Homo sapiens: one gene and its partners. The protein of the gene in region 3 purifies or fractionates together with the protein of the main gene of each other region. This does not show direct contact. Each region holds a gene or a part of one and is shown on either strand. Other genes may lie near its edges.

The links.
Region 1: the proteins of USP36 (region 3) and DGCR8 purify together in Homo sapiens (affinity purification with western blotting; 3 studies listed by BioGRID, with this or other methods). This does not show direct contact.
Region 2: the proteins of USP36 (region 3) and KRR1 purify together in Homo sapiens (affinity purification with mass spectrometry; 2 studies listed by BioGRID and IntAct, with this or other methods). This does not show direct contact.
Region 4: the proteins of USP36 (region 3) and KIAA0232 purify together in Homo sapiens (affinity purification with mass spectrometry; 3 studies listed by BioGRID and IntAct, with this or other methods). This does not show direct contact.
Region 5: the proteins of USP36 (region 3) and WDR3 purify together in Homo sapiens (affinity purification with mass spectrometry; 2 studies listed by BioGRID and IntAct, with this or other methods). This does not show direct contact.
Region 6: the proteins of USP36 (region 3) and WDR36 purify together in Homo sapiens (affinity purification with mass spectrometry; 2 studies listed by BioGRID and IntAct, with this or other methods). This does not show direct contact.
Region 7: the proteins of USP36 (region 3) and MACROH2A2 purify together in Homo sapiens (affinity purification with mass spectrometry; 2 studies listed by BioGRID and IntAct, with this or other methods). This does not show direct contact.

The regions. Positions count from the first base shown.
Region 1 is NC_000022.11:20,093,124-20,097,525, forward strand, and holds part of DGCR8 (microprocessor complex subunit DGCR8), read left to right. Parts: intron 1-1,589; coding exon 1,590-1,672; intron 1,673-4,402.
Region 2 is NC_000012.12:75,497,671-75,502,072, forward strand, and holds part of KRR1 (KRR1 small subunit processome component homolog), read right to left. Parts: exon of another isoform or gene 4,331-4,402; coding exon 4,253-4,330; exon of another isoform or gene 4,147-4,252; coding exon 4,053-4,146; exon of another isoform or gene 2,282-4,052; coding exon 2,139-2,281; 3' UTR 1,309-2,138; coding exon of another isoform or gene 1,154-1,308; 3' UTR 1,051-1,153; coding exon of another isoform or gene 1,024-1,050; 3' UTR 1-1,023. Other genes in the region: GLIPR1 (glioma pathogenesis-related protein 1 precursor), read left to right, coding at 1,024-1,050, 1,154-1,308. UniProt on the Homo sapiens protein: Part of the small subunit (SSU) processome, first precursor of the small eukaryotic ribosomal subunit.
Region 3 is NC_000017.11:78,809,518-78,813,919, reverse strand, and holds part of USP36 (ubiquitin carboxyl-terminal hydrolase 36), read left to right. Parts: intron 1-46; coding exon 47-147; intron 148-918; coding exon 919-1,060; intron 1,061-4,402. UniProt on the Homo sapiens protein: Deubiquitinase essential for the regulation of nucleolar structure and function. Required for cell and organism viability.
Region 4 is NC_000004.12:6,865,734-6,870,135, forward strand, and holds part of KIAA0232 (uncharacterized protein KIAA0232), read left to right. Parts: intron 1-458; coding exon of another isoform or gene 459-530; intron 531-4,402.
Region 5 is NC_000001.11:117,942,764-117,947,165, forward strand, and holds part of WDR3 (WD repeat-containing protein 3), read left to right. Parts: intron 1-632; coding exon 633-863; intron 864-3,322; coding exon 3,323-3,416; intron 3,417-4,402. UniProt on the Homo sapiens protein: Part of the small subunit (SSU) processome, first precursor of the small eukaryotic ribosomal subunit.
Region 6 is NC_000005.10:111,122,958-111,127,359, forward strand, and holds part of WDR36 (WD repeat-containing protein 36), read left to right. Parts: intron 1-847; coding exon 848-967; intron 968-1,150; coding exon 1,151-1,232; intron 1,233-2,650; coding exon 2,651-2,838; intron 2,839-3,776; coding exon 3,777-3,926; 3' UTR 3,927-4,402. UniProt on the Homo sapiens protein: Part of the small subunit (SSU) processome, first precursor of the small eukaryotic ribosomal subunit.
Region 7 is NC_000010.11:70,094,346-70,097,845, forward strand, and holds part of MACROH2A2 (core histone macro-H2A.2), read left to right. Parts: intron 1-1,308; coding exon 1,309-1,408; intron 1,409-3,500. UniProt on the Homo sapiens protein: Variant histone H2A which replaces conventional H2A in a subset of nucleosomes where it represses transcription. Nucleosomes wrap and compact DNA into chromatin, limiting DNA accessibility to the cellular machineries which require DNA as a template.

The DNA of each region.
Region 1 (4,402 bases), on a different chromosome or scaffold from region 3:
GGCCGGGCGTGGTGTCTCATGCCTGTAATCCCAGCACTTTGGGAGGCTGAAGTGGGCAGATCACGAGGTCAGGAGATCGAGACCATCCTGGCTAACACGGTGAAACCCTCTCTCTACTAAAAATACAAAAAATTAGCCGGGTGTGGTGGCGGGCACCTGTAGTCTCAGCTACTCGGGAGGCTGAGGCAGGAGAATGGCGTGAACAAGCGAGGCAGAGCTTGCAGTGAGCTGAGATCGTGCCACTGCACTCCAGCCTGGGCGACAGTGCAAGACTCTGTCTAAAAAAAAAAAAGTAGAAGGCCTCTCTACTGAGTGACAGCTGGGCCAGTATGTCCCTCCCTAGTCCTGGCCCTGCACATATTCAGGGGTGTGCCTAGAGCCAACTGGGCTGTGCTGGGCACATGCTGTAGTGCTTGTTTGTTTTTAAACTGAGCAGCATGTGGGCATGCCAGGAGGGAGGAGAAGCGGGCCAGCATGCTGTTGGCATCCTCCCCCAGTGGTGCTGGCTCTTACCGGCACTATTTCCTGAGTCCTCCCACTCCATGTTTGGGCCTAGCCACACAGAACACCTGGCACAGCGCAGCTCTGGGAAGGCTGTGTGTCCTGGCGAAGACCCACTGCCCTTTTGGACCATGCCCTTGCCGTTTGCATTCATGCCCTGCATTCGTGGTAGTTGACATTCTTTCACAAAAAGCCATTTGCCTCAGCGTCCAGGGTTAGTTGGCTTCTTGTAGGGTGGTGTTGGGTGTACCCCAGGCCCTCGCACCCACAGGTTGATTCTCGAGGTATCTGTCATTGCCGTGTGTTTTCCAGAAGGCCTGCTGCCCATCTTAGATTCTGCCTAAGAGACTTTTGCAGCTCAACAAAGGGGGTGTGGTGGAGGTTTTGACAGATAACTTGCAGTGGGGCCTTTTGTGGGGGTGGAGATGCCTTGGGCGTGGCTGTGTGCTCTTCCCTCTGCGGGATCACCCGCTTTCCTCCCTATGTGCTGGAACCCACTTCCCTTGCCCAGACTCTTGGCTGCCCTATAGACAGCTTGGCTCCATGTCTTGCCAGCACTGATAGCTCTGTGGGGTCTATGGAGCCATCAGCCCTTGGCTATGGCAACTCCGACCCCAGTGGGCATATCCGTGCCCTGCCCTCTAGCAGCTCCCTCTAGCGTCTCTCAGACCTGGCTGCATCTCTCCACCCACGCCAGCCACTGCTGCTGCCACCTGGTCTAGGTACCTGCAGTAGCCTGCTCTCAGGCCTCCCTGCATGGTCCAGGGCCCGCAAAGCTGTTTTCTCACGTGCCACCGAAGTGGTTCCCTAACATACAGCTCCGAGCTCCTCCCTGCCTGCTCCCAGGACCCCAGGGTGAGAGCGCACACACCCAGTGTGGCCCGTGAGGCTTTCTGGTAGCCTGCCACACGTCTGGGCTTTTCCTTCTGTCCTCTCCTGACCCTGTCACTGAAGTGCTGTCTCTCCTCAGGGCCCTCGCTCAGCCTCTGAGCTGTGGGGATGGGAGGCAGCAGTGCACAGTTCACTCTGCAGGGTGGTGAGAAGAGGGCAGTGCCCAAGCCTCACCCTCGGGCTCTTTTTTTTCATAGCCCGAGCTACACTGGAAATCCTCATCCCTGACTTTGTTAAACAGACCTCTGAAGAGAAGCCCAAAGACAGTGAAGAACTCGAGGTGAGTGTTGTGGTCCTGCCCTGCTGGGAGCTGTGTGTGCAGTGCGGCTACCCTGCCCTGTTAGTGTGAGCTGGGGGTGTCCGTGGGCTGTGCTCATGCCTTCCATGCCCTGTAGGTTAGTCTCATCCAGCCTCCAGGTTCTTCTGTTTGTATTTCATAAAGAGGAAACTTGCCTGTCTTTGTATAGGCAGGGAAAAAATGTCCTTTTTGTTAGAGATTTTTGTCCTCTTTTGCAGCATTGAGTGTGCACCGTAAATGTCGGGTACACATAGGTTTGTGATGGGAATGAATCTTTGAGGCAGTCTACAAGATTTAGATTGTTCTTTTTTTTGAGACAAAGTCTTGCTCTGTCACCCAGGCAGTGACAGAGTTTGATCTTGACCCACTGCAACTTTCACCTCCCGGATTCAAGTGATTCTCCCACCTCAGCTTCCTGAGTAGCTGGGATTACAGGTGTGTGCCACCATTTCTGGCTAATTTTTGTATTTTTAGTAGAGATGGGGTTTCACCATGTTGGCCAGGCTGGTCTCGAACTCCTGACCTCGGGTGATCCACTCGCTTCCGCCTCCTAAAGTGCTGGGATTACAGGCATTAGCCACTGCGCCCGGCCCTAGATTGTTCTTTATATACTTGACCCTTGAGTAACGTGGAAGTTAGGGGCACCAGCCTCTCACGTGGTCGAAAATTCACGCATCACTTTCAGTCCTCCCAAACCTTAACTACTTACTGGTAACCTACTCTTGACCAGAAGCCGTACCAGTAACAAACAATTGATTAATACATATTTTGTTATGTACATATTACTACATCTGTCCCCAACCTAGTTTTGGCACCAGAGATCAGTTTCAGGGAAGACAATTTTTCCACAGACGGTGTTGGGGGGCGGGGATGGTTTCAGGATGACTCAAGCACATCACATTTATTGTGCACTTTTTATTTCTATTATCACTACACTGTAATATGTAATGTAATCACTATACAACTCACCATAATATAAAACCAGTGGGAGCCCTGAGCTTGTTTTCTTGCAACTAGATGGTTCCCTCTGATGACGATGGGAGACAGTGACAGATCATCAGGCATTAGATTTGCATAAGGAGTACACAACCTAGATCCCTTGAATGCACTGTTCACAATAGGGTTCACACTCCTATGAGAATCTAATGCTACTGCTGATCTGACAGGAGACAGAGCTCAGGTGTAAAATGAGTGATGGGGAGCAGCTGTAAATACAGATTAAGCTTCACTTGCTCACTTACTCCCCCTGCCCCCACCACTCATGTCCTGCTATGCAGCCCGGTTCCTAACAGGCCATGGATTGGTACCAGTCCATGGCCTGGGGGTTGGGGACCCCTGATATATACTGTATTCTTACATTAAAGTAAGTTACAAAAAGAATGTTATTAAGAAAATCATAAGGAAGAGAAAATTTATTTACTGTTCTTGAAATGGAAACATCATCATGAAGGTCTTCATCCTCCACATCTTCATGTCGAATAGCTGAGGAGGAGGGGGAAGAAGAAGAGTTGGCCTTGGTATCTCAGGGGTGGCAGAGGCAGAAGAAAATTTTTGTATAAGTGGGCCCATGGAGTTCAAATCCATGTTGTTCAAGGGTCAGCCATGTGAAGAACCATTTAAAACTAGCTGTAAACCTTTTTGGGTAAATGGTTATTTGTAGCAAGGGCTTGTGGAATTTTGAAGGGTGCATTCTTATTTATATAATAGCTTTATTGAGATAGTTTACATACTATAAATTTGGCCTTTTAAACTATATAAGTGGATTTTTATATATTCAGAGTTGTATAACCATCATAACTACCTAATTTTAGAGTATCTCAACACCCCCAAAAGAAACTCCATACCCATTAGCATTCCCTCTTAGTTCTCTCCAACCACCAAAAGCCACTAATCTGCTTTCTGTCTCTATATATCTGCCAACTCTGGACATTTCATATTAGCGGAATCATACAATATGTGGTCTTTTGTGACTGGCTTCCTTCACTTAGTGTGCTATGTCAGCTGTAGGTTTTTATCAGAATAAGGAAATTTCCTTTTGTTCCTGGTTTGCTGAGAGTTTTTGTAGGAATGATGTTAGATTTTGTCAAATGTTTTTCTGCTTCTATTCAGATGATCATGTTTTTTTTTGTCTTTTATTTTAGTAATATAGTGTATTATATTGGTTTTTGAATGGTGAGCCAACCTTGCATTCCTGGGATATATCCCACTTGGTCATGACATATAATGATTTTTTTAATATGTTGCTGGATTCATTTTGCTGGTATTTTGTTAAGGATTTTTGCATTTGTAGTTATAAGCAATATTGATCTGTAGTTTTCTTGTGATATCTTTGTCCAGTGTAACAGCAGGTACAGGTATCAGGATAATACTGGCCTCATAAAATGGTTGGAACATGTTCCATTTTCTTCTGTTGTGTGGAATAGTTTGTGAAGGATTGGTGTTCATTTTTTAAATGTTTTGTAGACTGCGTTCAGTGAAACCTTCTGGTCCCAGGCTTTTCTTTGTCCAGAGCTACTTAATTGCTAATTCAATCTTACATGTTATAGGTCTATTGAGATTATCTATTTCTTCTTGAGCCAGTGTTGATAGTTTGTGTCTTTTTTGGAATTTTTTTCCCATTTGATGTAGATTATCTAATTGATTAGCATATATTTGTTCCTAGTATCCCCATATGACCCTTTTTTATTTCTATATGGTTGTGATGGTCCCTTG
Region 2 (4,402 bases), on a different chromosome or scaffold from region 3:
CTTCTCAGACAAATTATGGCAAGCACTGGAGCATAAATTCCTTCGTGGTATTCCTTCGTGGTCTCCTAGATACTGCTGGTAGTTCAATAAATACCCTTGGAGGCCAAATCAGGACTGTTTTACAAAATGTGCTGGGCATATTAGTGGTACATAAGATGATTTTAGCTAGTTCACAGATGTACATTTGTTTCAATAGTTGAATATTGAACATTTAAAAATATATATAAAAAAAAATAACTAGAACATCACACTCTTGATTTCATCGACATAACTGCCAAGAAAAGTGAGGGTAGCATATTTACAGTAATTCACCACAAAGCCCACTCACAGGTATGAAGACCAGGGATGCTCACCAGTACCCAGAGGACCAGATGATTGATGGGTTCTACCACGAGCATCTAATAGCGACTGCTGCAGAACTGGTGTGGAAAAGGTTTCTATTTTATAAAAGAAAGTATCCAGAAGGCTAAAGGCAGTTGTGGAATTTATTTCTTCCCAGTGCTCTGATTGTCAAAATTTGAATAAAGCTCAGTGAAAGGAGGACAGTAATTAATGACTTGATAGCCAAACATCGTAATGATGATTTAGTGATATACTAGACTGGATGAAAGAGAGGTCACTGTCTTTTCACTATGGATTCATCATAAACAGTATCATTCTTCTCAGGAAGAAACTTATTTTTAGAACTATATTTTAATAAATTTCTCACATTCTAATATTTAATTTTTATTTTTTAAATTTTATTACCTGCTAGGTATGATGTGTAAAATGATTTTCCATTTATAGTAATGGTATAGTTTCCTTTTTATAAAAGGTTTATAAAGTTTATGTAAAAAGTCAACTTAAAAATACCAAGTTAATTCAGTCAGTTCAAAAAGTTTTGAATAATTAAACTTGGAAAGTCACTGCAATAAAGCCAAAGCAAGTTAATGGTCATAATTATAAGACTTAGCTTTTTAAAATAAAACTCTCAACTGTGTCTACCCTTTTAATTTTTTTTCTTTCTTCCCCCTAACTTTACAGTTAACCGACAGCGAGACCAAGTCAAACGTACGTACATCAATCTTAAATTGTTTCATTAAGAGCTATGTGAATTCTGTCAGTGCATTATGAGGAACAATGTCTAAGAGGATATTCTATGTTTGTTTCACAGGTTACTACTCTGTTGTATATCCAGGCTGGCCCATATATCCACGTAACAGATACACTTCTCTCTTTCTCATTGTTAATTCAGTAATTCTAATACTGTCTGTTATAATTACCATTTTGGTACAGCACAAGTACCCTAATTTAGTTCTTTTGGACTAATACAATTCAGGAAAGAAAAAACCCAAAAACCAACCTCATTCACATATGGCTTTTTTTTTAACCAATAACAATTAGGTGTACTTCTATTTTAAAACATTTCAGAAAAAAATATATGTTATAGCAATACTCTTACTCAAAAGAAGAAATTTCCTAACTCTATCAGATAAACTCATCTTTAGTATAAATAAGCATTATTTGCAGGTTGCCACAGGTGGACTTTTAGTAAGTAACCTAACCCATGTTTCAGCTTCTAAATCTGCAAAATGAGCAAGGTACAGTAGCACATTTTTAGGTGATTCTTAGTAACTCCAGTAGCCTTCATTAGTTAAAAACATTATTATTTTTTGCATGCTGCTTCGACTCTAAATATCTGGTTTTCCCTGTCTTTTTGGTTTACTACTTCCCCAGATTCAGAACAGAGGAGTAACTAGGGGATCTGATTTTAGAGGCCTTAATTTTCTGTTCATGGACTGTTAAAAGTAAAACCAAACTTTCAAAAGGGATAAACCTAAATATTTACTTGTTATCATTAGAGAGGGAACATCAAATGCTGGGACATCATTACTAACCAATAGCATCAGACACTGGATTTAATGGATAATCACAATGGTCGTAATGTATACAAAGACTTATATACCACTTTCTCGTATAAATTTTTCAAAAAATACAATAATAATATAATTTATAAAGAACACTCTTCTATGAACAACCACCACCACCAAAAAAAAAAAAAGCCCTCAGAAAATTTCTCACAAATAAGGCAACTAATGCCTGATATCTCAAAATCCTTTACAAAAGGAGATAGTTCTAGTCAAGGAGTTTTGGGTATGTTACTTTTTTTTCTTCTTTTTCTTTTCATCTGCCTCCATCTTAAGTGCAATTTCTTCAGCTGTAAGAGCTCCCAGTTTCTTATTCTTTGCTTTCTTAACCTTTTCCTTGATGCTGGCCACATCAATTTTAGTTTCAGTAGAAGCTAGACAAATTAAAAGCACAACACATGTAATACTTTAGATTTTACCAAGTAAAACAAAGAATATATGTTTAACAAAGAATATATGTTTAAGGCAGTTAACTTCAGAGTATTCTTATAATTGAATAATTGAAAGGTGATCACAGTATAAAATATAAAAACACTTGCCTAAAGCAGTTAGAAATTTCTTCAGATTAAGATAAAACAAATCATAAAATACTTTATATATTAGTACAAGTATACATAAAAATGGCATAAATGGCATAATTGAACCAATTACTGGATTCAACTATATTAAGACTATTTCCTTAAATCCTACTTCAGACTAAATTATTTTACCTACATTCTTTTCCATATTTTGGAACTTCTGAGTCATTATTTTCCATCTTGCACATTAAAATAATTTAAAATTACATGTATCCCTTCTCAATAAGTTTAATCAGCTAACCCTAAGCTAGAGGTCAAAATCTACTTCCTCTAATATCAAAACGAAAATTTAAAGTTTTCCAAATATTAATTCAATATTAATTGAATATTCAATGAATTAATTCATTTAATGTTAGATTAATTCATTGAATATTAATTCAATGAATGACTAATTAATAGTATTTTAACAAGATTTTGGTATATTTAACAACATTTTGGTAATAAAGACAATAATTTGAGAGTGTGTGGAAGTCCCCCTAATAGAAGCCAACTATCTAATCAATGCCAAAAGTGTGAACAAAATAGAGAAAGGAAGCAGTGAAAAAGAATGCAACTTTTTCTTACCATTCAAAGTACAGGATCACAGCATAAAAGAATCATAAGATAAAACATCAAACTACCCAGCAACCTGAGAAGCACAGAGTGTTAAAGCCTCCACCGTGTGGAGAAACTAAATTAGGGTAACTAGCTATTGAGTATATTGAGTACCTTCAAAGCACTCAACTGACAGGTTTTACAGACTGGAAATTATAATACTTATGACATTTCTACCTTTTATATAACCAATAATCTACCATAGAATGTAGTATTTTTAAAGCTATTAACAAGCAATATATTAAAATAATAATGTATTATATCTGTTTCTGACCCAGTCTATGTACAATATTGCTGGTGAGCCCTCTCCCTTCAGTGTGTCACTGTTCACTTTGGAGGGTTACTTTAGGAAGAGGATAAGTGTTACCACAGGGGAAAAAAATGCAGAAGAGGATGCATCAGAAGAAATGGCATGACAATGTTTTCTCTTAGTGTCTTTTAAATACTAGGTTAGTGCGAAAGTGATTTCTGCCATTTAAAAACCACAATCACTTTCGCACTAATAGCTCCTGAATAAGACCTGTCAGCATCCTTTAGTCTAAGGTGATGAGAAATCCATGTTACCGATATAGAAGCCAAACTCTAAGCCAAGATCACATAAAGAGAAGAAAAAGTACAACTTCTGATAATTCCTCTTTGAGAGGCATGACAGCAGAGCTCAGGGATCTTCTTGCATTTCTACAGAAGATGCACTGGCTGCCCTGGGTTTGTATCTTTCACAACAAAGAGTCTTTTCCAAGCACAGACCAGAGGTCAGGAGAGGACTGTCAATCCAGTTTGCACTGAAATAGGCATTAGCTGCCTCTAAATTATAAATTATCTCAGCCATCCCTTGTCCTTAGGATTAGTAATTAATGAAATGCTAAGAGAACTGATGAAAAGATACAACTGTTTCTTAAAAAGATTCAGACAAATTTATTATGGGTTTACTTTTCCTAATTAATAAAGACTTTTACATCATAGAAAGCATTACCTTCCTTAGGTTTCACAATTGGTTTTTCCTTAGGTGGAATAAATGCTTTGTTTCTTTCCTCTTGTCTCTTACTGATGGCTTCTGCTTGTTTAGCCTACATTAATAAATAAAAAATATATCAGTTAAATGTATTTATAGTTAAATAATTCAAGTATCTATGAACTTTGCTATTCATGTGAGCCAGACATAAAGTGCCGTACCTTTATTGCTTCCATTTTCTGCCGCTTCTTCTGATTTGCCTTCAAAAAGTATTCACCACTAGCCAATTCTTTATCGATCTGTTGAAAACGGTATTTACAATTACATCAGAAATAATGTAGAGGAGAAGTCATGTCCTAAGCAAGTCACAA
Region 3 (4,402 bases):
TGCTTGTTGATTGTTTTGTTTTCTGCAACATCCTTGGCTGCTTCAGGCAAGCAATGGACAGTGGTACCAGATGAATGATTCCTTGGTCCATTCCAGCAACGTCAAGGTGGTTCTGAACCAGCAGGCCTACGTGCTGTTCTATCTGCGGTAATAAACTCACGCCCTCCCCAGATGAGCTCACTCCCTCTGCTCTTTTCTTATACCGGTGGGCCTCCCTAACCTTTTTTTGTTTGAAGGTAATTGGGAATTCCACTGGAGGGATTTGTCATGTGTCATAGAGACCGTCCACAGGGAAGGACACTTTTTAGTAAAGCCAGAGCCTTGGGAAGGTCAGGACAGGATCCCATCTGCCCTCACATTGATGCTGTTTTGAATGTAAACAGGAAAGTCACCATTTATAGTATTGCCCCAAATTAGAGGTACTGCTCCCTGGATGGTAGCCAGCCAATGCCCCTTCCCGTGTGGGGAAGCTGCCCCTGTAGGGATATGCTGGGAAGGACGTGTTTGTGGGGGTGCTGCTGCAGAGCTTCTCTGGAGGGGCCTTCTCCTGGAGCTGGCTGTCACTGACCTGGAGGCTGGAGACCGTGGCAGCTGAGGCATTTTTGCTGCTTTGTACGTCTCTGCAGAGTGTGGCTGAGGTGTTTGAGGTTCTTGCTTTCTGGTGCATTGAACTCTGATCTTGGAGGAATTCTGACTCTAATTTGCCCTTGCTCTGCTTATATTCAGCAGATACTTGGGGCTGATCTCTCAGCCTCACTGTGGTTGAAAGGCAAAGGGAGATTCCAGAGAAGTGGTTAGGACTGGCAGGGTTTCCCCAGGCCGTGTTTCTGCCTTTGCCCCGCCTTAACTTATTCTAATTCTCTCCGTTTCTGTAATGCCTAGTAAGAGAATTCCCTACTTGTTTTCTTCCTTTGACAGAATTCCAGGCTCTAAGAAAAGTCCCGAGGGCCTCATCTCCAGGACAGGCTCCTCCTCCCTTCCCGGCCGCCCGAGTGTGATTCCAGATCACTCCAAGAAGAACATCGGCAATGGGATTATTTCCTCCCCACTGACTGGAAAGGTATTTGTGAGAATGATGGAGGCCAAAGTGGCTGGTCTTGGTGCTCCTCACAGACCTCCTCACACTTGGGAAGTTGGCCACAGTGGAAGGAATTTGCAGGCAGTTTGCACTATTCTAGTTGATGTTATTTCTTTTCTTTTCTTTTTTTTTTTTTTTTTTTTTCGAGACAGAGTCTCGCTCTGTCATCCAGGCTGGGGTGCAGTGGTGCGATCTCCAATCTCGGCTCACTGCAAGCTCTGCCTCCCGGGTTCCCGCCATTCTCCTGCCTCAGCCTCCCTAGTAGCTGGGATTATAGGTGCCCGAACCACGCCCGGCTAATTTTTTTTGTATTTTTAGTAGAGACGGGGTTTCACCGTGTTAGCCAGGATGCTTTCGATCTCCTGACCTCAGGATCTGCCCGCCTCGGCCTCCCAAAGTGCTGGGATTACAGGCATGAGCCACCGCGCCCGGCCAATGTTATTTCTTAAACTGGTCATCAGCTGACATTGGCTATAGAGAAAGAGGAGACATGAATGAGAAAATTCTGACCCAACAAATTAGAATTGTCATTCACAGATCTGTTCTACTCATGAGACCAGCACCACTTACAGGTGTCGTGACAGGTGTGCCAAGCAAACTTTCTGTGTGCACTCCTTTTATTTCCTTTATAATGCCAAGCAAACTTTTTTTTTTGGAGACAGGGTCTCACTCTGTTACCCAGACTGGAGTACAGTGGCACAATCATGGTTCAGGGCAGGCTTGAGCTCCTGGATTCAAGCCACCCTCCTGCCCCAGCATCCCTAGTATTCGGGACTATCAGTGCACTACCACACCCAGCTAATTTTTAAATTTTGTGTAGAGACAGGGTCTCACTATGTTGCCCTGGCTGGTCTTAAGCTCCTCAGCCCAAGCAATTCTCCTGTCTTGGCCTCTCAGAGTGCCAGGATTACAGGCACCAAGCAAACTCTTAACCGTAAGCGTGTAGGAAAAAATATCCTTTTTTTTTTTTCTTTGAGACGGAGTCTCATTCTGTCGCCCAGGCTGGAGTGCAGTGGCGCAACCTTGGCTCGCTGCAACCTCCACCTCCCAGGTTCAAGCGATTCTCCTGCCTCAGCCTCCCGAGTAGCTGGGACTACAGGCGTGTGCCACCATGCATGGCTAATTTTTTTATTTTTAGTGGAGACGGGGTTTCACTTTATTAGCCAGGATGGTCTCTATCTGCTGACCTCCTGATCCACCCGCCTCAGCCTCCCAAAGTGCTGGGATTACAGACGTGAGCCACTGTGCCCGGCCTGTTCTCACATTTAACGGGGAAAATGTGAGTAGTTTGTACCAATGTTAATTTCCTGATTTGGGTAATTCTGCTGTGGTTATGTAAGAGAGTGTCTTTGTTCTTTGGAAATACACATGGACATATTTTGGGGTAAAAGAACATCATGTCTGCAATTTACTCAAATGGATCAGAAATAGAAATATGTGTATATGCATACGTACATAGTCATACATATATACACACGTACATATACATACAGAGAGAGGATGATAAAGGTTATGTGGTTACAGGTTAACCATTAGGAACTACCCTCTAAGTTACCTTTGTGTGTATTTGAAATTTTCTGCTAGAACTGTTAAGAATTCAGTTTCACTAAGTGGATTCATGAGCAGTTTCCTCATTAGAACACAGTGATCATTTGAAGTGGGGTGGACCCTCTTGATGACTGTTTCTTTTTTTTTTTTTTTTTTTTTTTTTGAGACAGAGTCTCGCTCTGTCACTGAGGCTGGAGTGCAGTGGCGCCATCTCAGCTCACTGCAGCCTCTGCCACTATGCAGCCTCCGCCTCTTGGGTTCAAGCGATTCTCCTGCCTCTGCCTCCTGAGTAGCTGTAATTACAGGTGCCCGCCAGCACTCCCGGCTAATTTTTGTAGTTTTAGTAGAGATGGGGTTTCACCATGTTGGCCAGGCTGGTCTGGAACTCCTGACCTCAAGTGATTCGCTCAGCTTGACCTCCCAGAGTCCTGGGATACAGGCATGAGCCACCGTGCCCGGCCTGGATGACTGTTTTTGATGGATCGTCTTCCTCTCCCTTTAGAATGAAGAGTTGAACCCCACACACAGGCAGTCAGGGCCTTTCACAGTCTGCAGGGGTTTTGGTCATTTACGTACATCTGTATTTCTCTTCACATTAAAGAAAATAGAAGCTGAAATTAGAAGCATTAGAATTGAAGTGGCAGTAAAATACATGATATAATTGCAAAGTTGGTGGTCACTGTAGCCCAGACTAGGAAGTTAGGAAGCAGCCTGGGCCTGGGACTGTGACTCATGTCTGTAATTCCAACACTTTGGGAAGCCGATGTGGGAAGATCAGTGGATCCCAGGAGTTCGAGACCAACCTGGGCAAAACCCTGTCTCTACTAAAAATGCAAAAGCTAGCCAGGTTTAATGGCACGTGCCTGTATTCCCAGCTACTCAGGAGGCTGAGGTGGGAGGATCACTTGAGCCAGGGAGATTAAGGCTGGAGTGAGTCATGATCATACCACTCCACACCAGCCTGGGCAACAGAGCAAGACCCTGTCTCAAAACAAATTTAAAAAGTAGCCTGGGCAACATAGATCCCATCAGCACAGAGAATATTCAGTAAGCTGTTGGGGGAGGATCACTTGAACCCGGGAGGTTGAGGCTGTATGCAGTGAGCCATGATCACGCTGGTGAATTCCAGGCAAGGTGACAGAGTGAGACCTTGTCTACAAAAAAAAGAAGAGGGGGGCCGGGCACTTTGGGAGGCTGAGGTGGGTGGACCATTTGAGGTCAGGAGTTTGAGACCAGCTTGCCAATATGGTGAGACCCTGTCTCTACTAAAAATACAAAAGTTAGCTGGGCATGGTGGCGTGCGCCTGTAATCCCAGCTATTCGAGAGGCCGAGGTAGGAGAATCGCTTGAACCCGGGAGGTGGAGGTTGCAGTGAGCTGAGATTGTGCCACTGCACTCCAGCCTGGGTGACAGAGCGGGACTCCATCTCAAAAAAAGGAAGCAGCCTGGGCAACATAGAAAGACCCCCATCTCCAAAACCCCATCTCCAAAAAAAGTGCAAAAATTAGCCAGGTGTGGTGGTGCACGTCTGTTGTCCCAGCTGTTTGGAGGTTGAGGCAGGAGGATCACTTAAACACAAGGCTGCATTGAGCTATCATTGTGCCACTGCGCTCCAGCCTGGACAACAGAATGAGACCCTGTCTCAAAAAACCCCAGAAAAACAAAGGAAGCCCCACTTGCCACAGGAACTCCATGGGCAGAGTGATGCCCGAGGGTGGAGATTGGCTCAAGGAGAGTCCCTGTGTCAGGCACACCTGCAGGGGCGCTTCACTGACC
Region 4 (4,402 bases), on a different chromosome or scaffold from region 3:
ACCATGAGACTTATTTCATATACCACCTCCTTCACTGACACTTTCCCTAATTCCCTCTCTCCCCTGCTCCAGCCCCACTCTGCATCAGAATTAATTTTGCCCCTCTCTTAATTTTCATGCACTTTATGCCTCTTTTTGATTGCATTTTTCATTTCTCATGAGTTATTTATATCCTGGACTATAAGCTCCTTGTGGCTGTGGACCATGCCTTACTTATTTGTCGCATCAGAGTGCCCAGGTGTGGGACTGCTTGCCTGTGATTCTAGGAAGCCCCCAGGCGACTTGAGAGGCACTGCTCTAATCAGCTACCTAGAGACCCGTAGAGGATGAATTTAATCCCATTGAAACACTGCTAAGAAAAAACCCAATAATATTGTTAGCCTTTATCTGTTTGTTTATTGCCCCATTTTTCATCCTTAAATATTCCTTTATGTACTTTGTATTTCACCTGGTTCCAGATTGGGAAGAAAGAAAAAGAGGAAAGAAGCAAGATTCTACATCATACCACTACCATATTCCTTCGCTTTCTAGTATGTTGATGTATTTATGTGTTATCAGAATTCCGGGTTTCCTTGAAAGGTCTTAGCTGCCAAAAAAATTCCCAGAGGACATTTTGGGATTGTCTGATAGTTTAGATGTTGTCAGCACTGCTCTCTCGGCAGCATTGTTATACTTTAGAAGCCAGGTTGAAGCTTACTTCATAGATTCATCTGAGATGTGCAGGAGGCTGAGTGACCTGAAGGGACAGTTTGGGGCCAGCCTGGGACTAGAACCTGTATCTTTCTGTTCTGTCACATTGCTTGGTCAGTCTGAAAGGTGCTTTTAAGAGGATGTGCTTCCGGCCCTTTTCCTGAGTCAGTACAGTCTTTTCAGGAAGCAATCTGGGAGGCCTGTTTAAAGATCAGTAGAACCCCATCTGTTTCAGACTTAGATGATGAAAATGTAGGATTTCCGATAGAACTGGTGTCTAAGAGCATGAAAATAATATGATTATTTTCAAAAGTTTAGTTCAATTCAGCAAACATTTAGTGAGTACCTGTTTACATGCCTGTTGCTAAAGTAGGTGTCCTGGATGAATAAGACTTTGTCCTTGCCCATACAGAATTCAGCGTAGTGAAGATGACCAACTTGTACCATGTTACTTATTTTAACTGAAATAGGTAATTTATTCATATGGTTCAAATTCAGAAGTTACAAGTGTATGTGTACATACACAGTGAAAGGTTTCCTCCCCAGCGGCAACCACTAGTGTGAGTTCTGATGTATTCTCCAAGGATATTTTTTGCGCGTATTAACAAGTAAATGTTCACATGTATTTCTTCCTATTTTTTCTTTTTGCTGAAATGGTACTTTATTGTAATCACCCTTCCTTTTTTTATTTTCTGCACACTATTCCATCGTATGGATATACCGTAATCTACCTAGTCAGTTCTTTATGTTTTAGGGCATTTGACCAATGCAGTTTTAGGTGCTGTAGGTAGAATGGTGGAGGGGAGCACAGAATGCTGTGGGAACCTGCAGGAGAACCCTTCCAGCCTGTGAAGGTTGAGGAAGGTTTCTTGAGCATATCTGAGTGTCCAGAGTAGAAGGACGGAGGCAGGGCAGTCCAGGCAGAAGGAACAGCAGAAGCAAGGGTAAAGAGATTTGAATCTGCTGATGTGTGCAGGGCAGCTGTGAACAGGGATCTCACGGTCTCTGGAGTATAAGCCATACGGTTAAGAGTAGCACAGATGAAGCACAGTGTGCCTTGGTATCTGGACATACATTTGTGGTGAAAATGTTCTTGTCGTTTCTTTGGTTGCCAACTTAGTACCAAGCACCTTGAGGCACAGAAAATAAGCAAAAGGCTTACTTGCTGTCTTCAGGGAATTTCAGTCCACTCAGGAGAGGAGCTCACTGTGCTGTGGAGGTCAGCAGGTCTGGAGGGACAGGAAGGCTCTGATGAGTAAAGAAGGAGTGAGGGTCAGGGGTCATGCTGGTGATGTGCCACCCGGCACATCTATGTAGAGGCTTCTGTCACCACTATCCTACTGGATGCCCATGTAGACCTCATGCGGTAGGTTATTTTCCCCACTTCTAAAGACACATAGGCTCTGAGAGGTGAGACAGCTGCCCCAGATCCCAGTGTGGGGGACAGGCAAAGCATTTTCCACCACTCTGCACCTCTGTGAACTGAGGAAGACTTAGACCAGCAGTTCTGTGTCTCTTGTTTGTCTCTGTTGCACTCAGTATCTCTTCATTGATGTTTCATTTCTTCCTTCCCAGAGAACAAGGTACATGGAAGTCTTGCTTTTCCTGGTGTGACCCAAATGAGAGCTGATTGTGGCAAAGGGGCAAGATTCCCAGAGTAAAACTAAAACCAAGCACCTTTCTCTTTACCCAAACTAGGAGTATTCTGTGAGAATTTACAGCTGTGAAGCCTTTGTTTCCTTCACCCAGCTTCCACCTTCTAAAGAATTTCTCAATTTTACATCTGTTGCTAAAAACATTTCTGGTTAGGCTTTTTGGATTAAGTTTATGTCTTCTTTTCACTGTTTCATTCATTCATCAAGTATTTCTTATGTACCTGCTCGGCCAGGTACTATTCTTGGTGCTGGGAATAAGTAACAAAGCTCTTGGTGCTGGTGGAGTCACATCCCACCTTGGGGAGCTGACAATAAACATGTTAAGTTATATAGTGTGTTACAATATAAATGCTGTTGGAAAGGAGGATCGCTGGACGAGGGGCATTGGGTTTGGGAGTGATGGCAGGAGTTTGCTGTGTTATGGGCGGTGTGAGAGCAGGCTTCCTCGCCAAGGTGCAATTTAAGGAAATACTTAGAGGTAAGAGAGTGAGCTGAGAGGATGCCTGGCAGGAAAGGGAGGGCAGCACTGAGGCCGCTGCTGTGCCTGCCTGTCCATGACAGCGACCTTCTGATCCGCTTTCAGCTTCCTCCATTGTCTCTTCATTCTTTTCATTCCCAGCCACAGCAGAAGTTGAATTAATACATTCGATGATGTATTAGATGAATATAGCATGATCCAGCCTAAAAGTTATAAATGAGTGGAGAGATGTCATAACAAGATGCATATTCCTTGAATATGTTTAGTATAAAACGGGACAAATAAGTCCCTGCCATAGGAATTGACATTCAAATGGAGGATGCAGAAAAAAGACTCCCAAATTTATGGTAGAAACTGGTGTGCCCTTCACAGTGGTTTCAGCAAGAGAGAGAAGAAATGATGTATGAGATAGTCAGAGACTGTTGGCCTGGCGGAAACTTTTCTTCACGTCAGCAGACACTGAGTATCTGCTTTGTGCGGGGCCCCATACTTGGGAATGCAAAGATGAGGAAGACGTGGTCCCGCCCCTCAGGAAGCTTACAGTCGGGTTCTGCTGGGATCTAAACTCGTCTTGGTTCATGCTGCCCCTGCTCCCAGGTTCCTGGCCCCTCTAGCCTGCTTTCCCTGACCTGTCCCATCCCCCACCATGAACTCACTCCCTTTCTTGATCTTAATCCTCAAGAAAGGATGAAAAGATAAGCAGTGTATTTAAACTGATCATTCCTGCAAAGAGCTTTTTCTTTCTCAAATAAGAACCTGTTAACCTCTAAATCCACTTATCTTCAATAGCGCCTTAGGGAGGTGATGGAGAGAGTTCTGGCTGGGGCACCTTCCTTGCTCCCCCTGAGTAGCACTAAGTAATCTCACAGGACAGGCAAGGCCTTTCTGAAGAGGTCTTAGAGTGCAGGGAATTGCATGACAGGTGCTGTTAGCCACCTTGGAAGAACTGCAGGCCTTGCGTGGTGCCACCTTGTTTGCGGGAAGCCCAGCCCTGTCCATTCCCCTGGCCCTAGCATCTGTTTATCTAATAGCAGTACCAATTTTTATTGTTAGGATAAGTTGTAGGAGAAATTAGCAAAGGTTAACTGACTGCTGTGGGTAGACAGTACAATTCTTCTTCAGTTTCTGACTTAGGAGTGTTTCCGAAAAGTTAAGTGAAAACAAAAGTTTGAAGTGTTTCCCTTTTAGTTACATAACAGACACTCATTACGGAATTGAACAGTTTTAGACCCATAAATAATTAAGTTAAAAGCATAACAAAATCCTGTTAGGAAACTGATGAAAAATTTGTTTCTAAAACACTTTAGATTTTAAACTTGAACACGTAGTGAAATGTCTTTTAAAACAATGAAGATGGGTGCAGTGTTCACAGGCCTCTCCACTAAGCAGATGTCTACTGAGAACACAGTATTAGGGGATGTGGGTGGTAGAAAGATGCAGTGGCCAAGCCTCACCCTGGGCGAGCTGGGGCAGGCTCACTCTCTCAGGCACAGTGAGGAAGGCACACTGAAGGGGGTTGCCCTGACTGCCAGCATGCCAGGTATACATGGTGACTGAAGCTGCCACAGGTCTTCTATTG
Region 5 (4,402 bases), on a different chromosome or scaffold from region 3:
GTCTTTTCCTGCAGCTAATTTAAGAAAAAGAAAAGTGTGTCCCACGTTCAGAAAGGATATAAGGTCACTTATAAAGAATACATACACAGAACCAAAGTATGTATCAGAACCAGGATCTGAGCCTAGTTTTTTTTTTTTTTTTTTTTTTTTACTTAAAAGCCTACTCAGCTACTACTCAATACTCGGAGCACTCTTTTAATTTTTTTTGAGATGGAGTCTTGCTCTGTTGCCCAGGCTGGAGTGCAGTGGCATGATCTCGGCTCAGTGCAACCTCCATCTCTCAGGTTCAAGCGATTCTCCTGCCTCACCCTCCGCAGTAACTGGGATTACAGACTTGTGCCACCACACTCAGCTAATTTTTGTATTTTTAATGGAGATGGTGTTTCGCCATGTTGGCCAGGCTGGTCTCAAACTCCTGACCTCAAGTGATCCACCCGCCTCGGCCTCCCAACATGCTGGGATTACAGGCGTGAGCCACTGCACCCAGCCTCAGGGCACTCTTACTTGAAAAATTGTTTATAGTTATTCAAACTTTATATAGATAGAGGACATTGTAAAGCCTTTTCCTGGAAAAAGTAAACCTTGTGAGCTAAGATGGTAGCTAGAACATTTATGATTATTTTCTTGTACAGGTCCTTTGACTTGATTCATTCACCTCACGGAGAGTTAAAGGCTGTCTTCCTGCTGCAGAACAACCTGGTGGAATTGTATTCACTGAATCCATCCTTGCCTACTCCTCAGCCTGTCAGGACAAGCAGAATCACTATTGGGGGTCATCGCAGTGATGTGCGGACTTTGTCATTCAGCTCAGACAATATTGCTGTTCTTTCAGCTGCAGCTGATTCCATTAAAATATGGAACAGGTTCGTGAAATGATGTTTTATATAGCTGTAGTTAGTAGTATTTCTTTTAATTTTTTTTGGTACTCTTAAGGGTTAGTTATTAACTCCTTAAGGCCCTAAATACAATTATCTTTAGTGCATTTGGGCCATTAGCCTGTGGAGCTTAGAGAAGAAAAAGTTGCCTTTTAAAATGTGGTGCAAAAAAAAAAAAAGGCAAGCTTATTCCATGTTTAGAGCTTGTAACTGTACTTGGCTAGAGAAAAACACACAACCATACTACCTACTCTTTAAACTTAATAAAAAGCAGGCTGTTATTGCTGCCCAGTAATTGTACCCTAATTTCTCACCCTTCTTTTACTTTCCCAGATGACTGTTTTATACCTTGCTTCTGTTGTCAAATCAAATACCTCCAAAACCTTGAAGCTAATGATCATATCTCCCACCTTAAAGGAAATAATAACCCTCTCTCACCCCTGCATTGCTCTCCAGTTACTACCCCATTCTCTGATTTGTTTTCTCCATTCTGTCTTCATCTGTCTCCCATCAAGCTTTTGTCCCCACTGTTTCACCAAAACAGTCATTGTCATCAGTGATCTTGTTTCCAAATCCATTGAGCTAAAAGCTTTATTTTATGCTTTGTCCTTGAATTGATGACTTTCTGTCTTTGACACACTCTTTGACTTTCATTATTTCCCCTTCCCTTGCTGTCTGTTTATTCTCAGTCCTCGCTCCATCTTTCTTATCTTTATGACGTCTAAGTGTTAGAGTGCTTTAGGGCAGAGTCTTTGGACCTTTTGTGTATCTAAACTCACTTTATGTAATCTGTCATGTAGCTTTCTCTGTATGATGACACATAAATTTATATCCAGCTTTAACCTCCTCCCTAAACATCAAATTCATATATACAAATACTTTGTGTCACCACTTGGATGTCTAATTAAGCATTTCAAACTTTTATGTGTCCCAAACCAAACTTACGTTGTTCATGTCTCCAAAAATCTTCCCACCTGCTATTCCTTCAGACTTCCCTATCTTAATAAATGATTACTTGCTACCAGTTGTAGTCTAAACCTTGTAGCCATTCTTGATTTTCTTTTATTTATTTATTTATTTTGAGACAGAGGCTCGCTCTGTCGCCCAGGCTGGAGTGCATTGATGTGATCTCGCCTCACTGCAACCTCCACCTCCTGGGTTCAAGTGGTTTTCCTGTGTCAGCCTCCCGAGTAGCTGGGATTACAGGCGTGTGCCACCACGCCTGGCTAATTTTTGTATTTTTAGTAGAGACAGAGTTTTACCATGTTGGCCTCAAACTCCTGACCTCAAGTGATCCACCCATCTCGGTCTCCCAAAGTGCTGGGATTACAGGCATGAGCCACCGCACCCAGCCCATTGTTGATTTTCGTATCCCATATTCATCCAATCTATTAGCAAATCCTATCAGCTCTACCTTCAAAAGTGATCCCAAATCCAGCCTCATCTTACCACCTGCACTGCCACTACCCCATTCAAACCACTGTCATCTCTCATCTGGGTTATTGTAAAGCCCCCTGACTGGTGTCCCTGCTTTCTTGCTTGCCCCTCTATAGTCTGTTCTCAACACAGTAGCCAGTGTAATCTTTTTATAGTGGAAGTTAGATCACTTCCAGTAGTTCCATCTCACTCTACCTACCTTACACACCTTATCTCTTACTACTCTCCTTTTCTGCTCCACTAGAGCCACACTGGTCTTCTTGCTATTCCTTCAACAGAACAAGAATGTGCCTTTCTTATGGCTGTTGTGCTCCCTGTTCTTTCTGCCTGAATCCATCTTCCCCATTTATCCATAAGCTTTTTCTGTGTCTTATCAGATGACAGTCCTATCATTCTTACCCTACTCCTTGCACTCTTCATCCTCTTCTCCCAGCATTATGTTGCTCTATAGCACCTAACACCTGATATACCAAATATTTAGATATTTATTATTCCCAAAGAATGTTAACCTTTATGAGATTAGGAACCTCTGCTGTTTCATCCACTGTTGTATCTCCAGCACCTAGAACAGTACCTGGTAATGTAGTGGGCATTCAGTAAATGTTTGTTAAGTGGACATTTGATATATATTTGATTAATTAATTAATGTTTGTGGTCCTATAAAAAATGTAGGGATATGTAATGATGTACTAATTTGACTTGTAATCCTTCAGACTCACTCACTTCTTGGTAATGGCAGATTGGGCTCCGTGGAGCCCAGCAGACACTTTTCTACTCTGCTTTTGTGTGATTTCTGTTCCTTAGGATTTGGAGGCCTTATAAAGTAAACAAAGTTTGGTGCTTTTTAGTATTTTCTCCCATGACTATAATTGTGTGTGAGTCAAGGGTTTTTAAGACTTTTATCTTCTTTTATGTTGATCTGTCTAAGTGCATTGAAACCTACACACTGACCTCTAAAATGGGGATGCAGATTCTCTTAACATGAGTTCTTTATTTTTTCTTTCTCATAGGTCTACACTGCAGTGTATTCGCACAATGACCTGTGAATATGCACTTTGCTCATTCTTTGTACCTGGTGATAGACAGGTAGTCATAGGAACAAAGGTAAATGGAGACTTTTTCTGGGATATCTGGATCTTTTCTACTCAAAATTCATAAAGTTAAGAAATCTGGTTCTTCTTTTTAGCATATTGGAAATGGACTGGAGCTAAGTAATCTGGGAGGATGTTAGTTTATTACATATTTTGTTTACTGAAGTTTTACTTTATTTTTTAAAAATTATGAAGAAGAAAATTAAAATCATGACCCTGAGATAACTACCATTAACATTTTGGTGATCATCCTTTCATGTGTCTTTTTATGGGCGCATATGTAATTGTGTTTTAATTAATGATAAAATATATTAAGGGTAATAATTAAATATATTAAGTACCTAATATCATGCTTGGCAGACAGAAGCATTCAGTAAAGACAAACTGATCAAGTCCTTATTCCTAGGTGCTAGTCAGATTGGGAGACAACCATGTGGAAATAAGCAGATATGGATTTGGATTTAGTTTCTGCCCTTTAGAAATAGGTAATTTGGGCCGGGCGCAGTGGCTCACACCTGTAATCCCAGCACTTTGGGAGGCCGAGGCAGGCGGATCACAAGGTCAGGAGATCGAGACCATCCTGGCTAACACGGTGAAACCCTGTCTCTACTAAAAATACAAAAAATTAGGTGGGTGTGGTGGCGGGCGCCTGTAGTCCCAGCTACTCGGGAGGCTGAGGCAGGAGAATGGCGTGAACCCGGGAGGTGGAGCTTGCAGTGAGCCGAGATAGTACCACTGCACTCCAGCCTGGGTGACAGAGCAAGACTCCATCTCAAAAAAAAAAAAAAAAAAAAATGAGTAATTTGGAGCAAGTCACATAACTGCTCATAGTGTGTTCCTTTATATTATGGGATGACGACACTTGCTTTTTGACAGCAGCTTTCGTACCAGATGGACTGGTACCAGCCTCTGGCACTTACTAGCTATGTGACCTTAACCCTGTTAGCCTTGGTGTTCTCGTGGAAAATGACGTTACTGACCCATTTCACAGAGATGAAG
Region 6 (4,402 bases), on a different chromosome or scaffold from region 3:
AAATGAGCCAGGCATGTTGTACGTGCCTGTAATCCCGGCTGCTCAGGAGGCTGAGGCAGGAGAATTGCTTGAACCCGGGAGGCGGAGGTTGCAGTGAGCTGAGATCGCACCACTTCACTCCAGCCTAGGCAATGGAGTGAAATTCCATCTCAAAAAAAAAAATGTTCCTGAGATACTGATATGTAGCAGTGTACTTACCAAAACAAAATTCTTTCAATGGAAATTTCAGTAGAGTTTTTGCTAATATAATTTTACTAGCATTTGAAATACTTATAAACCAGCAATCATGTTTTCTTGAATTTTAAAAGCACAAGGTACTAAAGAAAAAATTCCAGCAAAATAGAAAAATTAGAGCTGTACTTTGAAAGGAAATTATCAAATTACTTATAATGTCAGTCTGCTTCTGGCTCCAAAGTTCCTTTGGAGAAAAGTAATTTAAGAAACTCTTTTGTATTAAGCATTTATGTAAATTTTGCTTTCCATCCTGTTTTGTGAAAGAGTTTGTACTCAATACAAAAGGAAGTTTAAAATTACTTAATTGTTATATCTTCATGTAAATATATTCATATTTCAGGAAAATGAGCTGTGTTTGTCTTAGAACTTCCCCTGTGCCCTGTCACTTTTTTTCTGCCTTATCGGCAAGGGTGCTAGAGATCTGCATTGGGAAGCCCAAGTTAAGGATAGCTGTGGTATTGGTCAGAAGAGATCATATTTTAACATTCTTATGTGAAAGAGTTTCATTCCTCTTTTACTTTTTGGTATTTGTTTTAAAATTGATTTGAAATTAAATATGAGAAACTGTTGGCAAGATAATTCCTATTTTTCTTTCTCATTTTCTCTTAATCAGAAAAAGAATAAACCAAAGGAACCACCCAAAGTACCCAAATCAGCACCATTTTTCATTCCAACAATTCCTGGCCTTGTACCCAGATATGCTGCACCTGAACAAAATAATGATCCCCAGCAGGTAAAAAACAAATTAGAAGATTCTAAGTATATCGGTGTATGTTTGTATGTGTTTTCTGCACTTCTTTACCAAGACCTAGTTTTACAGATATAGGGTAAATTAATGATAGCTTTTAATTACAAACTATACATTTTTGGGTGATACTTGAATTATTTGAATAATGTGTATTTGTTTTTGTTTAAGTCTAAAGTGGTAAATCTTGGAGTTTTGGCTCAAAAATCAGATTTCTGCTTGAAACTTGAAGAAGGACTGGTAAATAATAAGTGTAAGTTGAATTATAAGATATTTTAACTAATATATTTAGCTTATTTTACTGTATATGAGGAGAAATTGAAGGAAATATCAGCGTTCTCAGTAGTTAAGATAGTAAAAATCAAAAAGATTGAAATTTTGGTTTTAATTTGACGTAATTTTAGCATTTATATTAAATAAGCCCACTAAACTCAAATGGTATTGATATTATAAAAATCTGTTGAAGATTTTTCATATATCTAACTTACTTTTTGCTATTGGAGATGGACACAGTTATTGACTATATTTATAATAAGGAGATCCTTCTTGTTGTGAATTAAATGTAAAAGTTTTGTTTGTCGTTTTTGTAGCAAGTAATTTGCAAGTCTTTTGTTTTTATTTATAATTTGTAATTCAGCGGACTGCTTAGGTGATTTCATATATTCCTAAATTATTTTATTAAAAAGGAAATGTTTTAATCTGTCTGTTGTGTTCATATATTTAAATTTCGAAGGCTACAGTCTGTAGCTAATAGTGATTAGCCATAAGAACTGTAATCATTTAAAAAACTGTAGTCACTCTCCTAATAATTTTAACTTGTCCTCTTGTTTTGATTCAAATGCTTTTGTTTTCATACCGAGATTACTTGAGTCCACATTAGCAAAAGTCAGAGAATGATACTGATGAGCCCTTGTAAATGACTTGTTATGTTTATGGGGAGACAAAGAAATAAAAACACTATTGTTTACTATATACTGAAGGATCTAAAAGTGATTAGACTTTTGTCATTGGTGATACTCTTTTTCAGAAAGCTAAAGCATAGTCATTGCAGTTCTCAAATGACTCATAAAAATAGCTGTAAGTGTACTGAGTGTGTTTTCCTAGGGTGCATATGAAACAATTCTTCTAGGGAAAAGAAGTAGGTTTGGGCTGGGTAAGAATAAGGGATGGGGTCTTCCCCCTCTGATTTTATATATTCTGTACTGTTAGTAATATAGTTCCTAATGATTATGTACTTTTATAACTTTATAACAATAGAAAAGAAAAATTATTTTACCTCATCAGATTCCCAATGCTAACCACTATTAATACTTTTGTATGTATCGTTATAGGCTTCTTAATTAGGATTTACTCTGAGAGAAGATATATGAGCATTTTAAAATTCTAACGTGCCTGTTGCAAGGCATTAGATTTTCTTTATTAACAGGAAAAAGGTTTAAATTACAGAAAAAAAATGTGTTTTGAGTACTTTCTCTTATATTGGTGTCATCGTTTGTACTGATTTTCAATTATTTTGGGTTTCATTCTACTACATAATATGAAAAAATTAACCCACAGGAAGAATTTCCTGTACCATTTAAATATATCCTATTTGGGGTATAAAAGGAAAACTGTAATTTTCTAAGTTAAATGATTATAATCAAGTCATAACTGGATTAAAATTTAATGCAGATGACACTGCTCTCAACCTTCTGAAAGAATCAGGCCCATCAGGAATTGAAACAGAGCTGCGAAGCTTGTCTCCTGATTGTGGTGGGTCCATAGAAGTTATGCAGAGCTTCTTGAAAATGATTGGGATGATGCTGGACAGAAAGCGTGATTTTGAGTTAGCCCAGGCATACCTTGCATTGTTTCTAAAGGTAAGTCTAATGTAAGACAGTACTGCCCAGCTTGTCTTCTTCTGGGGCAGTGCTATCTAACAGAACTTTCTGCAAAGATGGGTATGCTGTATATCCATCCTTTCCAGTATCATAGCCACTTGCCACATGTAGCTATTGAGTTCTTGAAATGTAAATAGTGTGATCAAGAAACTGGATTTTTAATTTTATAGAATTTTAATTAATTTAAATTTAAATAACCGCATGTGGCTAGTGACTACCACATTGGACAGCTAGACAGTGCAGCTTGGGAGTCTTGTTTTGTTTTTTTACTCAACTGCACAATAATTTTGACTTTACCCCCTGACATTTTTATGCTATCTGCTTGATCCAATGTGCTGAACCATTAACTTTTCTTTTTTTAGTGGTTAGTTACATTTTGGAAGTTTTTTGTGATTATGAATAGAAAGTTGGGTTTGTTTGTTTTTTTTTCTACTACTGAAATCAAAATGTTCACTTCTATCATTATTAAAGGAGTTTTGATCATTTGACAATAAGACTGTTACTTTTATGATTAATATAGTGGTGAACTCATGTTTTGAGGGTCTACTTTAGTGGTATAATGTGTTGAAGGAGGTAGATGATGCCGATTTTTGGTGATAATAGATTTGATTCTTTATCCCATTTATACCTAAAATGAGTTCACTTGATCTGATTATTTAAAAGTATCAGGACTGTCCTTAGGTGGAGAGGAGTGATGACCACTTTAATTCTACCAAGGAAGTCACAGTATCATAAAGGACCTTATAATAAAAAAAGTTTGATAGAGGAGGGGAAAATGGGAGATAGTAATAAACCAGCGCTTAAGAAAACAAATATTCACCTAGTGTCTTTTGTGGTTCCTTGGTAGAAAAATTGAATCCAGATTAGGTAAAATTTTAATTTTCTTAAATGTTCAATCATCATATTTTTCTTTGCAGTTACACCTTAAAATGCTTCCTTCAGAGCCAGTACTCCTAGAAGAAATAACAAATTTGTCATCCCAGGTGGAAGAAAACTGGACCCATTTGCAATCACTCTTCAATCAAAGCATGTGTATTTTAAATTATCTCAAAAGTGCTTTGTTGTAAAAATAAATTTGTGACTAAACAAAGACTTTCATATTAAATGGGTTCAATTGAACTCATTTCTTATTTTCCAAGTGTCAATGTGAAAAGAAAATAAATGCTAGCACTACTGACTAGTCAGTATATCTCCACTTTAAATGCTAAATACTTTCTTGAAATAAAATCGCACCTCCCGGCCAGGCATGATGGATAATGCCTGTAATTCCAGCACTTTCAGAGGCCAAAGCGGGAGGATTGCTTGAAGCCAGGAATTTGAGCCCAGCCTGGGCAACATAGCAAGCAAGATCCCATCTCTACAAAAAGTTAAAAAAATAAATTACACCTGCCTTTTGTTTTGAAGACTTAAAGAATCTGCTCAAATGATTTATTTTCTGAGTCTCTTCACATTAACTTTTATATGATTTTTAAAAAATTATTACCTGCTTATATTTTTTGAGTATCTGTTTCATATAAAGAGATGCTGCATGTTCACTGTGAAG
Region 7 (3,500 bases), on a different chromosome or scaffold from region 3:
CAGGGCTATGCATTTGAACAGTCTTCAGCAACACAACAGCAGCCCAACCAGACATGCAAATAATTCATTCCTACAAGTGTAAAGTTTACTGAGCAGACAATTTATCTACCAAGTCAACTGGGGCTGAAATAAGACACCCAAGGAAAGAGTCAGTTAATCATATCTCTGGTAGCTGAATGTTTCCATCTTGACAACACAGTAAGCCTCCATTCAAAGAATTGGGAAGAGTATGTTCTAAGAAGAGCATCGGTGTGGCTGGTTGCTAATTCGTCACTGATGAAAGCAGGGAAACAAAGAGGTGGAATTTATGTCCCCTCTCTGGCCTGTTCACTGTTACATGACGATTAGCTTTCTCTCACTTAGCTAAGGCAACATAAAGGTCTTGCTCACATGGGCCAACAATAGAGAATGCCCTCCATTCCACTCTACTGTGAACACATAGGATAGCAATTCCCAATGGTAGCCCCAAGACTGTGGTCTCCAAAGGGCAAGGGAGCCAGACACCCCCAGGTCAGAATCCCAGAGCCCATTACTTCTCTCCAGCAAGGTTATTGGCTTCAGAGCCCTGCCCCACAGATTTTGTGTTCTTCTAGGGAGAATGCAGGATGCTGAGGGGAGAAGAGAGAGCAAGCCCTGGGCTTCCTTGCAGGAGCTTCTCAGAAGATGCATCACTGAAAACTAAGGCCACCAGGGTTGGGAACCAAAGGCATGAGCTGTAAGGGAAAGAAAGAAAGGAGAGGGGGCCAGGCGCGGTGGCTCACGCCTGTAATCCCAGCACTTTGGGAGGCAGAGGCGGGTGGATCAAGAGGTCGGGAGATCAAGATCATCCTGGCTAACACGATGAAACTCCGTCTCTACTAAAAATACAAAAAATTAGCTGGGCATGGTGGCGGGCGCCTGTAGTCCCAGCTACTCAGGAGGCTGAGGCAGGAGAATGGCGTGAACCTGGGAGGCAGAGCTTGCAGTGAGCCGAGATCACGCCACTGCACTCCAGCCTGGGAGACAGAGTGAGACTCCGTCTCAAAAAAAAAAAAAAAAAGAGAGGGGAGGCCCTGTTCCTGTTCCAGGGAAGAAGAAATGGATTTGTTGCATGCTGCCAGCCCCAGAGTGGAAAGCAAATCCACTGAGCTCAAAGAGCTTATTGCAAGCCAAACACCTGGGAAACTGGAGGTTGTCACTCTCTATGCAGCCCCTATGTTGACATTGGGTATGAATAATTAAAGAGAATTAATGAATGCAAGTAAAATATGAGATTTTTCAACAGAATTTTATCTTTTCCACATTCACCACCTTTTCTTCCTAATGCAGCTGTCCTTAACCCAGAGTGACATCAGCCATATTGGCTCCATGAGAGTGGAGGGCATTGTCCACCCAACCACAGCCGAAATTGACCTCAAAGAAGATATAGGTAAGGTCCTGAGACTTCAGTAGAAGTGCCATAGAATAGGCCACTGTTCAGGCAAGTTCTTGTGAAGCTGATCATTGTCAACTGGCTGTCCCTCCGCTGGGGTCCCATGTCAAGCTCTGTCTTTATGTGTAGTTGAACAGTTTCACTAGAGAGAAGCTAACTTTGTTTTAATTCTGCATATATTTTTGAAATTTTTATTGGGGTATTGTGTAAAAGCAAATCATTAGCATAGAGCTTGATGAATTTTTCTCAAAGTGAACCCCACTTTGCAACCAGCACCAAGATCCTGAAGCAGACCCTTACCAGCACCCCAGAAGTCTCCCTCAGCCCCACTCCCAGTCAGTATTTCCTCCAAGGGTAACCACTGTCCTTTCTTATCAAAGCAGAGATGGGTTTCATCTGTCTTGAATTTTGTAAAAATGAAATCTTGTCCTCTTCTGGGTCCGACTCCTTTTGCTCAACTTAGTATTGTGAAATCTATCCATGTCGTTGAGTATGCTTGTATTCATTCATTTTCCTTGCTCTGTAGTATTACACTCTATAAATATATGACAGTTTATTGATCTATTCTACCACTGATGACATTTGGGGTAGTTTCCAGTTTGAGCTATAGTGAATAGTGCTACTATAAATATTGTTGTACATGTTTACATATATCGTAAGCTTAAATATTGAGAGTGCTATTGATAAAAGGGAAATGGACATCTAGAAAAAAATTAGATTGTCCATTAAGCTATGAGCATTGAGTTATTTTTGCCTGTGGTTTGCCACCTGTCCCACGAGTGGCAGAGGGAGCTGTTAATAGCCAGGGTGGAGGAGCTTGGGAGGGTAAGCTGTTATGGGCGCTGGAAATAACAGCATGCTAACAGTCCCCATCCCATCCATTTTTACCAAGCAGAACTGCCTTAAACTCTCCACGGAAAGGGTAAAGTGAGCAAAGAAGGGGCTTTGTCTCTAGGGTACAGGGCTTGCCTGTGAGGGAGGCAATTTGAGGTAGATGCTAGTAGTTCAGCCCTGGCTGGTAGCACCAGGGGCCCCAGGCAGCTGGACTCACTCAGGGCTTCCTCCTGGCATCAGAGGCCACTTGCTGTGCTGAAAAGGAGATAGGACAGCCCTGGGAAAAGTCAGCATTACAGAGAAACAGGTCTCCTTCCACTCTCCATGGAAGGACGCCCTCTAGTAGCCTTCATCTGGAGCTCTTTTAATAGGTGTCCTGCCTCTCACTGACACATTGCAGTGTTCATACTTTACACATTTCTATAGTAATGAAATTTTTATGTAAGAAAAATAATATGCTTCTTTTTTTTAATTGGCATGGTGGCAGAGTAGAAAGAGCACTGGTCTGGGAGCAAAAATTCACGCTCAGATCCCAGCAGTGGATTCTAAGGCCAACCGCTTCAGGGTCTTGGGAGGAGAAATGGGCTAAAGGCAGTCAGGTGGTTAAGAGGGCAGGTTCCAGGTCGGCCTGCCTGGACTGTCCCAGCTTTTCTGAATTGCTTCCTAGCTGACCTTTGGCAGGTTTCTAAACCTCCCTGAACCTCCGTTTCCTCCTCTGTAAGGGAGGATAGCAATAGTACCTGTCCCATAGGGGTGCTGTGATGGGGCTTAGCACAGTGCTGGGCTCCTAGGCAGTTAGTAATTGACAGTGGTTTTATTGCTGCTGTGTTAGGAGGAGTCCCTCCCATTACGATTCCATTTTCCACCACCATCACCCAAACTAATCATCCCAGCAGCCAAGGCCCTGTCTTACTCTTTTCAAAACATTATGTTATTATGGGAAAAGTCAAGCATACACAAAAAATAACAGAAAAGTATAATGAAACCCTATGCAATCAGATGCAATAATCACCACCCATGGCCACCTTTGTTTCAGCTCTTACCCCCTCCACATACTTCCAGACATCATTTTATCTATGAATATTTCACAATGACTTGTAACAGATAAGGGCTGTTTACTAACAACACAGCCACAATACCATTATTGTACCCTTAAAAAGATAGCAATATCAACAAATTACCAGTGTTCCAATTCCAGTTACATCATAAATGTCAAGTTTCTTAAACATTTGTTTAAGCCAGGCACAGTGGCACA